Regions from separate parts of the Homo sapiens genome. Here regions 2 and 3 are each reported to be linked to region 1. The links are microRNA targets in miRTarBase. Many come from high-throughput screens and were not tested one by one. Region 1 holds a microRNA gene; each other region holds the end of a gene's coding sequence.
The links. The annotated mature microRNA hsa-miR-650 reads AGGAGGCAGCGCUCUCAGGAC and lies in region 1 at 1,443-1,463, shown strand. An mRNA with a match to its seed (bases 2 to 7 or 8) in the 3' UTR can be bound and repressed. Matches are read on the target gene's strand: a 7mer-m8 pairs with bases 2 to 8, a 7mer-A1 pairs with bases 2 to 7 and ends in A, and an 8mer does both.

Region 1 (4,148 bases):
TGCTTGTGCAGGGGACTGAGCCTTCACTTTGAGCCAAATAAGTTTTCTTTCCCAAGTTCGATCCTGAACAAGAGGGCTTTCTGGACTTCTTTTTGTTTTCAGGTTTGTGCCCCTTCAGGTTTGGGGCTGTCTGGAGTCCCAGCCAGGGGACAGTGAGGAAATCCAGCAGTCTCACACTGACTCTGTTGTATTTCATCTGCTGGGGCCATCCCAAACTGCTGCGTACCATTTCCTTTCCTGGTGCTCAAATAGCTGCTCCATGCACTTGTCATGGTTTTATAGCTCAATCTAGATGGGAAGACAGGATAGTGTATGTTACAATATTTAAATAGAACCTGAATCCCTTAATAGTTATTTTAATATGGAACATTAAAAGAGTTGCATCATAGGCAATGGGGAAAGATGAAGAAAGATTAAACGCATTTGGAGGAAAAACTAAAAATGTCTTTATTGAATGTCTGTGTGTCTTCAGTGTCGAAGGGTTGAGAGAGGTCAGCTTTAGGTTGTCCTGAGGATGTGCTCAGATGGGGGAAAGTAAGAAAGCCGGAAACGTGCATCTCTGTGACCTGACACATAAATCACAGTAAAATGGAAGTAAATCTTTCAATAAACCTTTCAAGATAACATCACTCTGGTGCACATAGAAAGGCCTGTTAGCAAACTTTCCCTTTTCCCTGCTGGCTCATATCCCCATGGATCACCTGTATGCAGAACGGACTCTGTGGTCTCCATTTATCAGGCTGAGAACCAGAGGCTGGGAAGGACAAGTCACCTGCTCATGAGTGGGAGGGGCAGGATTGGGAGCAGCGGACTCAGGCTCAGGACTGTGGCCCTGGTTGGTGCTCCTTGTTCCCTTCACAGGGTCCCACCCACATGTGCCCGTGTGGATGTGGGTGCACTGCCTGGGGTGGCTGATGTGCTCCAGGGATTTGATGGTGCAGATGCTTCAGGACAAAGCATGGGAGTGGGGATGGGACGAGGCTGCCGCTGGGCAGACCAGGGACCAACGCCACCCAGCAGAGGCTTCCAGTGGGGTTGGGCAGCCCCATTTCCTGAGAATAGAGAGAACCTGGCAATGAGTGCCAGAAAGAGGTTACTTCGAGGTGTGCCCAGGCCTGGAGGGTCACAGAGACACAGGCACCACACAGCAGAGACACTGAGGGCCAAGAGCTCACTCAGGTGAGGGGCTTCAGCAGATTTTTCTCTCCTGAGCAAATCACGTGCAAAGAAATCAACTTCCTGTCATCAGAATAGACAATCAGGGACTTTAGTCTCCTTGGCTGAGCCCCGCTGTCAAGGGAAGCAGAAGTCTCTAAGCCCAGGCCCAAGTGAGGGTGGGGTGAGAAGAGGAGCTCAGGATGCAGATTTGCATGGAGGTCCCGCCCTTCTCTGAGGCAGAGGGGATAAGACAGGGCTGGGGGCAGGCCCAGTGCTGGGGTCTCAGGAGGCAGCGCTCTCAGGACGTCACCACCATGGCCTGGGCTCTGCTCCTCCTCACCCTCCTCACTCAGGGCACAGGTGATGCCTCCAGGGAAGGGGCCACAGGGACCTCTGGGCTGATCCTTGGTCTCCTGCTCCTCAGGCTCACCTGGGCCCAGCACTGACTCACTAGACTGTGTTTCTCCCTTTCCAGGGTCCTGGGCCCAGTCTGCCCTGACTCAGCCTCCCTCCGCGTCCGGGTCTCCTGGACAGTCAGTCACCATCTCCTGCACTGGAACCAGCAGTGACGTTGGTGGTTATAACTATGTCTCCTGGTACCAACAGCACCCAGGCAAAGCCCCCAAACTCATGATTTATGAGGTCAGTAAGCGGCCCTCAGGGGTCCCTGATCGCTTCTCTGGCTCCAAGTCTGGCAACACGGCCTCCCTGACCGTCTCTGGGCTCCAGGCTGAGGATGAGGCTGATTATTACTGCAGCTCATATGCAGGCAGCAACAATTTCCACAGTGTTTTAAGTCAATGAGGAAGTAAGATCAAAACCTGCCCTGGGCTCTCAGGCCCCCTTCTTGCTCTGCAGATGCTTCCTCACGCTGTATAAGGGTTTCCTGCAGGATGGCCTTGACAATTCTCCTCTCTCAGCTCCTCTCCTTTCCCACCATGAGGTCTAAAAGGAAACCTGCTCGTGATTTCTCGTTCAGGACTGTGGCAACTTCCTTTTGCTTGTGTGCTCTGGTCCCTTAACGTGCAACTATTCCTAGCTCTTCAATGCAGGGACGTAGGGACAAGGAGTTTACTGCTTGGTGCAGTCCCTCCTGTTTTCAGGAACATCCTCATTCTAAATGCATCCCCCATCTGTCACACTATGCAGATCAATCTGGACAGAAGCCATCAGGGGGATGGCTTCCAGTTTCCAGGAATTGCATCTTGTTCCACTCTGTGTCCACCACGCTCTAATGAAGATGGCCCTCCTAGCTTAAAGTGACCACTTTAAGAAGACTTGAAGATGTTTTTGAGGGATTAAGAACAAAGAGGATGCTGCTGTTTTTCTTTTTATTGCTCCTGCTCTTTGCCGAAATTCCTCAGGTTGCTGAGCTGGGGAGATTTTGAGTGACAGGCTCAGTGCTCTCGCAGAATTCTCCTCCCCTCACATCGCTGAGGCCCTGTCCTGGAAACTCCTCACAAGTGGACGGTCTTCCCATAGGATGGGGGATTCCAAAATGGCTCCACAGGAAAGAGTTAACCTGAGTCCACCTCCCTTCCTCATGGACATCGAGCATTTCTAATTTTCATGGCTGTCAATACTTTTGTACCTGGAATCCCTAATAATCTAATGGTGAGAATTGATTTAGAACACATTCGGACATTAGCTGGGTCCAATATTTAAATTTTCTGAGCCAGTTGTTAAATACAGCTATTATCATATATAGTTTAGGCTCCTTAAACTTCGATTATACAGATTATATTTAAAACAAAGTAACTAGTTTACTATATATATTTACAAAGTAACTACTATATAACATCATGTTGTGTACCTGAAATATAAACACTAAAATTTATTTCAAAAACCAAAGTGTATTGTCTATTGATGCATAAAAAAACACTCACAAAACTTAGCACACTAAGAGAACACATGTCTGTGACCTTGTGACTTGGATGCACCTAGAATTGGGAGTAGCTTAGTTTGGTCATTCTCGCTCCTGGTTAATCACGAGGTTGCAGCCAAGCTGTCAGGCCAGGCTGCATTCAGGCTACATCTGCCAAAGAGGTTAGGAACTGTGGAAGCCTCCCTCTGGCTGTGGAAGCCTCCCTCTGGCTGTGGAAGCCTCCCTCTGGCTGGGAGACTTCCGCAGTTCCTAACCTCTTTGGCAGATGTAGATCATCTCAAGGATAAAGGAGAGAGTGGAGTGAAGGCCCCTGTCCTTGTCCTCCATGTAAAAGACCATCCCATGCATGCACTATTTTTTATTCTTTGCTGAGACATCCTAGGCATAGAGCACTGCCCCATTCATTCAAAGGTTGTAGAGTATTCTATGGTAGAATTTTAGCCAACTCACTTTTAATGGTTATTATCACTATTTTGATCTTATAAATAACACTGCAGCGAACATCCTTATGTAGACTCCTTTGATTTTATATGTAGACATGACCATAGAATAAATTTCTAGAAGTCAAATTGCTGAGTCAAAAGGATGTGTGCTTGTAATTTTCACTCACTGTCCTCAGATTCTCCTCTAGAGGGGTTATCTACAAATTCGCAATGTCAGCCATAAATATTCGAACAGAGTACACTGGGGAAAGTTTAAATGTTTTTCAACCTAGCAGATTTAAAAATGTTATCTTTTTTTAGTTTTGATTTCTCCTGTTCTGCTTGAAGTTGAGCATTTTCTCTAATACTTCAGTGCTATTTATTTTTATAATTTGGTAAACATTTTCTTAAATGTCCAGATAAGAAGGATTTTGGTCTGTGGTTCCCAAGAGTCAACTTTGAGGATATTCTGTAGGTATTTTTAGCACCATTTATAGTGTAACCATTTAAACCTATAAAAACCACTCTCAGCTCTGGGGCCATGGAAAAACAGGTGGCAGGACAGGGATGGCCCACAGGATGTGGTTTAACGGTCCCTGATTTGTAGGGTAATTTGAAGTTTGAGAATTCCACCGCATATGTTCTAGGTGGAGATCTCTATTTGAAGGATACTGTATTTTACC
Region 2 (4,000 bases), not on the chromosome of region 1:
GGCAGCCACCTGCAAACCAAAGAGAGGCCGCAGAGGAAACCAACGCTGCTGGCACCCTGATCTTAGACTTCCAGCCTCCAGAACTGTGAGGAAGATATCTCTGTGGGTTAAGTCACCCAGTCTATGGTATTTTGTTAGGGCAGCCGGAGCTTAGACAGAATGGCCTTGAGCCCACCACCACTCAGAGTGTGATCTGGGGACTGGCAGCATTCGCATCACCAGGATCTTGGGAGAAATTCACAGTCCCTGGCCCCAACCCAGCCTTGCTGAGCCCGAAATTGCATTTTGGCAAGCTCCTCCCTCCTTCCCGCGGATGGGGTGGAGGTCTCCACCAGGCCCTGGCTGTCAGCATCTCTGTGTATATGAGACATCCTAGCAGAAGCAGCCAACACAAAACAGTCCAGAGCCTGAAAGATGGTTTTCAATGTTTTATTTCACAAATTGTTCAGATTTGTTCATAAAAGATATGTTACAGGAACATTTTAGAAATCAAACCAGTTCTACTGAAACAATTGCAACAACGTGGCCCCTGTTCATGCAAAGCACAAAAAACATTTACAATAAAACTTTGTACACAGGAAGTAGCAAAATACATCATTTTTCATAGAAAAAAGCACACACATAAACTGCGGGCTGAGTGAGCCTACAGACAATATGAGAAACCAGCACACGCTTTGGAATACGGTAGGGCAAAACTCCTAAGGAAGCCGAAAATGTTCATCCTGTGGGCAGGAGAGCCAGGAACGCCGTTGGCTTGGTACAAGATCTTTTTAAACACAGGGTAAGTGTTGGTAGCACGAGGGGCCTCTATTCCACACACAGGAGAGGTGGTGCTAGGGACAGGGCTTATCATTTATAGTCTTGTTTCCATTTTCTGAAGACAAATATTCCAGTTTCAAAATGTTTGTGGGGATGATAAAGACAGCCAGGTCCATGGCCGGGCGCAGTGGCTCATGCCTGTAATCCCAGCACTTCGGGAGGCCAAGGTGGGTGGATCACCTGAGGTAAGGAGTTCGAGACCAGCCTGGCCAACATAATGAAACCCCATCTCTACTAAAAATACAAAAATTAGCCGGGCATGGTAGCTCACGCCTGTAGTCCCAGGTACTTGGGAGGCTGATGCATGAGAATTGCTTGAACCCGGGAGGCGGCAGTTGCAATGAGCAGAGATCACGCCACTGCACTCTACCTTGGGCAACAGAGTGAAACTTGGTCTCGGGAAAAAAAAAAAAAAAAAAAAAAAGACAGCCAGGTCCTGCTCTGGGCAAGGACTTTCTATCCTGCTAGGAAGGCCCAGTGAAGGAGGCATTAAGGAACCCGGGGACTTTATTTTTAAATGATGGGGTCAACTCACACTGGAAGTTTCAAGTCTCCCTTGAGTGGGATGCTTTGGAAGCGAGCCCACTGGGATCGTCCTGGACCCTTCACTAATTCTGCAAACCCCACAGGGCGATCTAATTTATCTTGCAGACACAGACACAGCCACAAAAGTCCAGCAGCAGAGCACCCAGCACCCAGAAGTTTCCCAGATGTTTGGTGGTAACTGGACTCACGACCTGACAGGCTGACCGAATTCTTCCTCTCCGACATTTGGGGCTGAGGAGTCAGTACCTATGAATTACGACTAGACTACAATGCACAAAGCACGTAGTCCTGTGAATTTTAGCTCAGTCAAGCTAAGAGTTGAACTGCTTTTTACCAACTCCTTAAAGGGGTGGGTTTTTGTTTTGTTTTAAACCTATTTACCTTCAGATTCTGCATTTATTAGAAAGGCAATCAAAGAAAGAAGGCATCACCTAGGTGCCCAGGTAGAATTTCTTGTCCAGTCTACAGTATCTTAGTTTTTGACTTTCTGCTAGTTCTTTCACCTAAGAAATATTTTGAATCAAATTTGAAACTAGCATTCACCAAAGTGATCTATTGGCTGGCCCGGTGGTAGAGAGTGGAATTTTCACCTTCTGCAAAAAAATGCTATTTACAAAAGGGTACTTCATTTCACTGTGGGCTTTTGGTCTGGGCTCATGAAGCACTTTTATAGAGTGATGGCAGCCAGGGTGTACTACACTCCTTGGCGCCTCGGGAACGTTTGGCAAGAGTCGTTTCACGAAAACAGGAAAAGAGATCCTTCTAGTGTATTCCCATCTCTCGCTGTCATGAGGCCACAGACGGTTTCATAACCACAAACTGAGCTGCTAACCTCGGTGAGGAATGTACCAAAGACTCCATTCCTCCCACGGCTGAAAAAATAGGTCATCGGGTGCGTGGGGAATCTGCACATTTAATTGTCATTTTTTAAAAGCAGCAAAGAGCAGGCCTTCTTTGGTTGTTCTCAGACATCTCGTCTCAGTGGAACCTTACGAGACCAGGAGTTAAGACTTGGGCTTCAAACAGGTTCGCTTGCAAAGAAAAGTCCTGGGTGTGAACCAGGACACGTAAACCAGTCCGAGGCAGGGTGGGAGCCACAACGGGTAGGGGGTAAAGAAAGGGTCCCGATCCTTAGTCCTCAATGGGACCAAAGGTCACGGCAGAAAACAGGTGGGCCATGAAGACGAAGGGCCTGACAAAGACAAGATACATCTCTGAAGTGACTGCTGAACTCTACATAAACCAGCACTGCTGTGTATAGAGCCATCCTGAATGCGGCCATTGAAGGGGGCCTGTGGCGGGCCGCCAGCAAGGACACGTGCCAGGGCGGAGCCGGGGTCTCTCATACCCGCAGCCCTCTTACTCTAGCCCATTTGTCTGTCTGACCAGCAAACATTAAAACCATTTTCCTCTATTGGTAGGGACGGACTGTGTTTTTTATTTTTAAATAACTACCTTCTACTTCATTCCTGAAACTCATTGGCGCTTGCTCAAAAGGCCTCTTCCGACGCCGTGAATGCTTCACAATTGTGAGCTTCAAATGGTTTGTTCTTTTGGCAGGGAGGTTGAAATCAACTTCCTCCACCAACAGAAGAACACATAGCAAGGAACATTTTGGGCAACTGTCCCCTTTAAGAGACAGCTCAGATCTCTAAAGGAGAGAGGACGTCCAGATGGAGACCCCCAGGCCCCAGCAGGATCAGGCACCAGGGAGTCCGGCTGAGCACCTTGGGATGCTGTTGCTTCAGTGAGGGGATGAGATGTCACCTCACCCACAGGCCACAAAGTGATGGACACTGAACATCAGTCAAAGGAAGTTTCCTGACTCTCCATATACCCCGCAATGACAAAATAAAAATAAAAGCAAAACCCCGAAGCCCTCCTGAAGACGCCCCTTCTCCCCTGGTGCTGGAAATTCACTGCCTGACAGCAAAGATCCGGAAGGCCTTTCCATCCCGAGGAGTCCCCAGGCTGAAAAAAAGAAGAAAGAGGGCCCGTTACTGAGAGATCTGGAGGGCCTCCTGCAGGGACTCTGGGTGGGCAGGGAGACCTGGGTGCCTCCTGCTTGCTCCCGTAGTGGAAGAGCCATGGCCAAGGGACACTTCCTTGAAGCCGCCAGACACAGAGCCTGCCTTGAGTTGAGAACAGGTGGCAAATCCCATTTTCTCTGCACATGAGCATCCATCTGATTCTAGGTCAAGGCTGTTAAGTTATTTCCTTTTAACTCAGGGATCTGCTGGACCCAGTCTGTCTGGATTGGACTCACCCTCCGAGAATTCTGCTTGGTTTCACTACCACCTGTCAACCCGAACAGTGGTGTCTTGGGAGAGATGAACAGGTGCTATCTCAGCACTACTGCATATGCCAGGTGCTTCACCGCCTTCCACCTTCCTCCTGAGGGAGCTGTTATCGCTCGTTCACAGGGGAGGAAACGGAGACACCAGGAAATAAAGAGATTTACCCAGGGTCCCATGGCTAGTAAAAACTGCCCTCTCACAAGAGGAGTTAAATCCTTCAGCTAATCAAAGATGGTTTTTAAAAAAGAGCTTTAGGCCAGGCGCGGTGGCTCATGCCTGTAACCTCAGCACTTTGGGAGTGAGGCGGGTGGACCACCTGAGGTCAGGAGTTCGAGACC
Region 3 (4,000 bases), not on the chromosome of region 1:
GGACCTTCGGCAGGCGTGTGTGTACACACACACGTCCAAGGGGGAGTGGGGGTGGCAGAAGGCAAGTTCGGCAGATTTCATTTATGGAGAAGTGGAGATGAAGAGCAACAGAGGCAGAGAGGAGCAGAGTCAAGACAGGTCCCCGTCTCTCTTAGTGACCTGCTCCCAGGTCACCCAAAGCAGCCCAGCAAAGGGGAGACTGGCAGGCCTGGCAAGCAGGGGTGGGCCAAGCCTGGGCCGAGAGCCCCCATGAACTCCAGGTCCTGAACGCCAGCCCCCTCCAGGGTCCTGTTTTGTCAGGGTCAGTGGGGCTCAGGAAAGACTCTAACCTCTAGCCTAACTCAGAGAAGGTCTGCCACTGGCTGAGGGGCACGCAGCAAGCCAGGGAGGCCCAGGTAGGGTAGATGGAGATCTTGGGAGTGGGCAGGGGTGCTAAGCTGGGAATGGGGACATCTGGGGTCACCCTATTGTATCCCTGCCTCCATGACTGACCTGAGACATATCCCCTCAGGCCTTGGTTTTCCTACTTGGGAAGAAGGAGGGTCAGGTCCCTTCCAGCCAGGGCTGTGGTCAAGGTGCTGAGTCACTAGGGGCAGTGGGGAGGGGGTGGGAGACAGCTTTGCCTCCCTCTGGAGTTGGGGCATGAGGGGGCCAGGACAGAGCCGAGCACAGCGGTGAACGGTGGAGAAAGGGCTCAGGGCCGTGGCTGGTGCCCATGGTGGCCGCAGGGCCACCCATGGCCCCATGGGAGGGTGACTCTGAGCAGCCCTTACCAACTGTAGGACTCTGCTGCCCTGGAGTGGGGCCTGAAGAACTCTGGGGGCGGCACTAGAGTCAGGAGTGAGGGGCCCTTGCGTTTCCAGGCTCCCCTTCCCCAGTCAGCCCAGCCTGGAGCTGCCACAGAGTGGGGTGACCGCTGCTGTGATTGTCGCCAGCCCCCCGCCAACACCAGACACACAAATGGGGTGGGCTGAGGGGTGGGAGGCAGCAGGGGCAGTGACACTGGAGCAGGGACAAGAGGAGACATGGAGAGACAGAACAGGTCACACAAGGGCAGAAAGGTCAAGAGAAAACAGCAGGGCCAGAGAGAGGGGAAGAGACCCAGAAACAGCGGCGGGGCCCGAACAACCCCGGAGGGTGAGACTAACAGAGACTCGGGTAGGGAGACACCGCGAGCAGAGCCCGCGCCCACTCACGTCCTGGAAGAGCGTGTGTCCGGCGGGCCCCGGGTCGGGCGCGAGCTGGGGGTGCCGCGGGGTCTGGGGCTGGGGCTGGGGCGCGGGCGGCCGGAGCAGGCACACGGTGAGCAGCCCCGCGCACGCCATGGCGCCGCCACCCGCTCGGGCTCGGCTGCGGTTGCTGCCGACCCTGGACGCCGCGGCGGACTCGGTGTGGCTAGAGGCCGCCCCTTGGCGCCGGCGCCGACGCGCGGGCTCAGGCCCCGCCCCCGCCCCGCCCCCGCGGACGCCGGGTTCCCTCGCCTCAAGGTCCAACTCCAGCGCCGCGGGCCTCCGCGCTTCCGCGGCCACGGCGGAGGGGGAGGCGCCCGAGGGCTCCGGTCCCGCGACGGCCTGTCGGGAGCAGAACCTAGGGGCTGCGGGCCTACCCAGAGGGACAGGATGACCAAGCCAGTGCCGAGGTCAGGGTGACACAAGTGGGTAAAACCCACCAGGACTTCACCTTTTGGGGCGTCTGTATCCTCATCTACAAAAATGGTACTGGCAGACACCCTATGCAATTGTTGGGACTCATTCAATGTCAAGTGCTTACAACGGGGGCTGGCGCAGAGGAAGCCCACAGGTCCGTGCGGCCGAATCCCAGGCATCCCGACGCCCGCCCTCTCTGGCACTAAGCGCAGCCCTTTCCCCTCCCCTCCGTGACTCTGGCCCTCCCTTCAACCCGTTCTCCACACAGCAGCCGGGGGGAGCTTTTAAGATGCGAAAGAGGAGGTGTCACTTCGGTCTCCAGTGACTCCTTGGCCCCTGAATAAAGCTTAAGACTGAACGCCCCACTCCAGGAGCACCACTCTGACCCTCACCTCAGGACCGCAGCCACACTGCTTTCTCTCCGGTCCTCTATCCCGCTCCCTCCTGCCCAAGGCCTTTGCCCATCGTGTCCTCTGCTTGGTGTTTTCTTCCTCTGGTTAACTCCTACTTATTTTACAGCGCTCAGCTTAAGCACCACCCATTCCAGAACGCCTTTCCCGATTTTCTCATTTATGCAGATCTCCTCTTTCAGACCCTGAGAGCACCATGAAAGGAGGTAACACCCGTGTCCCCAGAACTGTTAAATACCTGACACAGAACCAGCCCACTGTATTTGTTACATGTTTACTAATGTCCAGAAACGTCTGGAAGGAAGACAGCAAACTGAGCAGAGTGGCCTCTGGGGCTGGGGAAAGGAGAGGCCACTCATTACTCTGCACTTCGGGCAGCACTGAATAGCATTCTTGGCTTTCTACAACAAAAACCTTTACTGGATCTGCTTTTGAGTTAGGACCAAAACAGCGAGGAAGCTGACCTTTCTTCGAGTTATGAGGCTCAAATCAAATCGGGCACGGACAGGGAGAAGGGAAGTGGAGAATGGGCATTTCCCCAGCAACCTTGGCCTCTCCCGCCCCGAAATGTTCCCAACAGAGTCCCAAAACCCGGCCCAAACGTCATCAAAATATTTATTAAAACCAAAGCAGGAGGGAACAGAGCTGTTAGGAAGCAAATCAAAGTGCAGATTGGAGGGTGGGGCAGAGCAGTGGGGAGGCAGGCGCTTCAGACACTGCAGGAGGGACCACAGGGTCTGGGCTGGGGGAGGCCTTCACCACCCCTCCTGCCCACATCAGTGAAGGTCCCCCACTCACCTCTCCCATCTCATATCCATCCTGGGGGGCAGCTGGGGCCCTGAACTGGCCCCCTGGAGAGGGCCCACCCCACCATCTGACCACCCATGGCTGTCAGTCAGTCTGTCTCCCTCCCTCACTTTCCCAATAAATAAATCACCCAGGCCTCAGTTCCTTCAGTATGGGGCAGAAGAACAGCTCAGGGACCCCTGCCCTTGCTCAAGGGTAGAGGGAGTTGGGGTATCAACCCCACACCCCTCCTCCCCTTTGCTGATTCCCCAGGCTCACCAAAGAGGCCTCGATAAATAAATAACGCTCCATTAAAGCTTCAATCAGAAAAAACCTTTAAGACAGAAGTGCTCTCACCGTCCTACACGCCCAGCCAGCCAAAGCCTCCCCACCTGGCCTGGTCAGAGCACCAGATTCTGGGAGCAGGCACTGCCCTGGGCCTTGTGGGACCCCCAGAGCAAAAGGGCCGAAAGTGCAGTTAGAGCCCCCCCACGCGCACACATGGACTCATGCACACACATGTGGACACACTGGGGCGTGTCTGCAGTGCACACACAGAGGTGTATGTTCACCTTCATTCCCCGGTACATGCACACACACATGCTCACACACATTCACCCCCGGTACACACGTGTGGGTGTAGGCTGCATGCACATACACACCACACAGACTCCTTCCCTTCCTGGCTTGCTCAGCCTCCTAGCGGTAGCCAGACCCCAGAGCTAGAAGCTTCTGGAGACAGAGGAGAGGGGTATAAATTAAATGTTTCCAAACAGGCTGGGAGGACGGCCAGGGACAGGGGGCTCCAGGGCTGCAGAGACAAGGTGAGCATCTCTGGAAACCCTGGTCCCTCCAAGCCCTGTCAGAAATCCAGGGGGGTGAGGTCCCCAAAGTCACAGTCGAAGAGGTCTCTGATGCCCTCGCCCTCCTCGAGGCCGAAGTGGTAGTCGAGGGCCTCGTGGGGTGGGGAAAGGCTGATGAACTCCTCAGGGAGGAGGCCGGAGAAGTCCTCCCGCACATGCTCCAGGAGCGAGTCGGCCGCCACCAGCGGGGACAGGCGGTCCTCGTCCACGGGAGCCCGCAGGCTGCCCATCCGGGACAACAGCGGTTCTGGGGAGACGGGGAGCATCACAGGCCGGGGATGCCCCAGCAGGGAGG

Region 2: the mRNA of CRISPLD2 is a reported target of hsa-miR-650. Seed matches in the 3' UTR shown: 7mer-m8 at 1,302-1,308.
Region 3: miRTarBase lists E2F1 as a target of hsa-miR-650. Seed matches in the 3' UTR shown: 7mer-m8 at 2,753-2,759.

The regions. Positions count from the first base shown.
Region 1 is chr22:22,821,349-22,825,496 of GRCh38, forward strand. It overlaps MIR650 (microRNA 650), which reads left to right and starts at 1,428; the gene lies at 1,428-1,523. It overlaps LOC105372948 (a long non-coding RNA gene), which reads right to left. Exons shown (of 4, transcript XR_938047.2): 4 at 1-288. It also overlaps IGL and IGLV2-8.
Region 2 is chr16:84,905,924-84,909,923 of GRCh38, reverse strand. It overlaps CRISPLD2 (cysteine rich secretory protein LCCL domain containing 2), which reads right to left. Exons shown (of 15, transcript NM_031476.4): 15 at 416-3,336. The coding sequence ends at 3,282. Among named protein-coding and RNA genes, the nearest start is that of LINC02176, 20 kb to the left of the region's middle.
Region 3 is chr20:33,673,028-33,677,027 of GRCh38, forward strand. E2F1 (E2F transcription factor 1) reads right to left here. Exons shown (of 7, transcript NM_005225.3): 7 at 2,450-3,952. The coding sequence ends at 3,705. It overlaps NECAB3 (N-terminal EF-hand calcium binding protein 3), which reads right to left and starts at 1,401. Exons shown (of 12, transcript NM_031232.4): 1 at 1,197-1,401. The coding sequence starts at 1,325. RefSeq lists enhancers at 162-709, 710-1,257, 1,928-2,428 and a silencer at 1,112-1,741.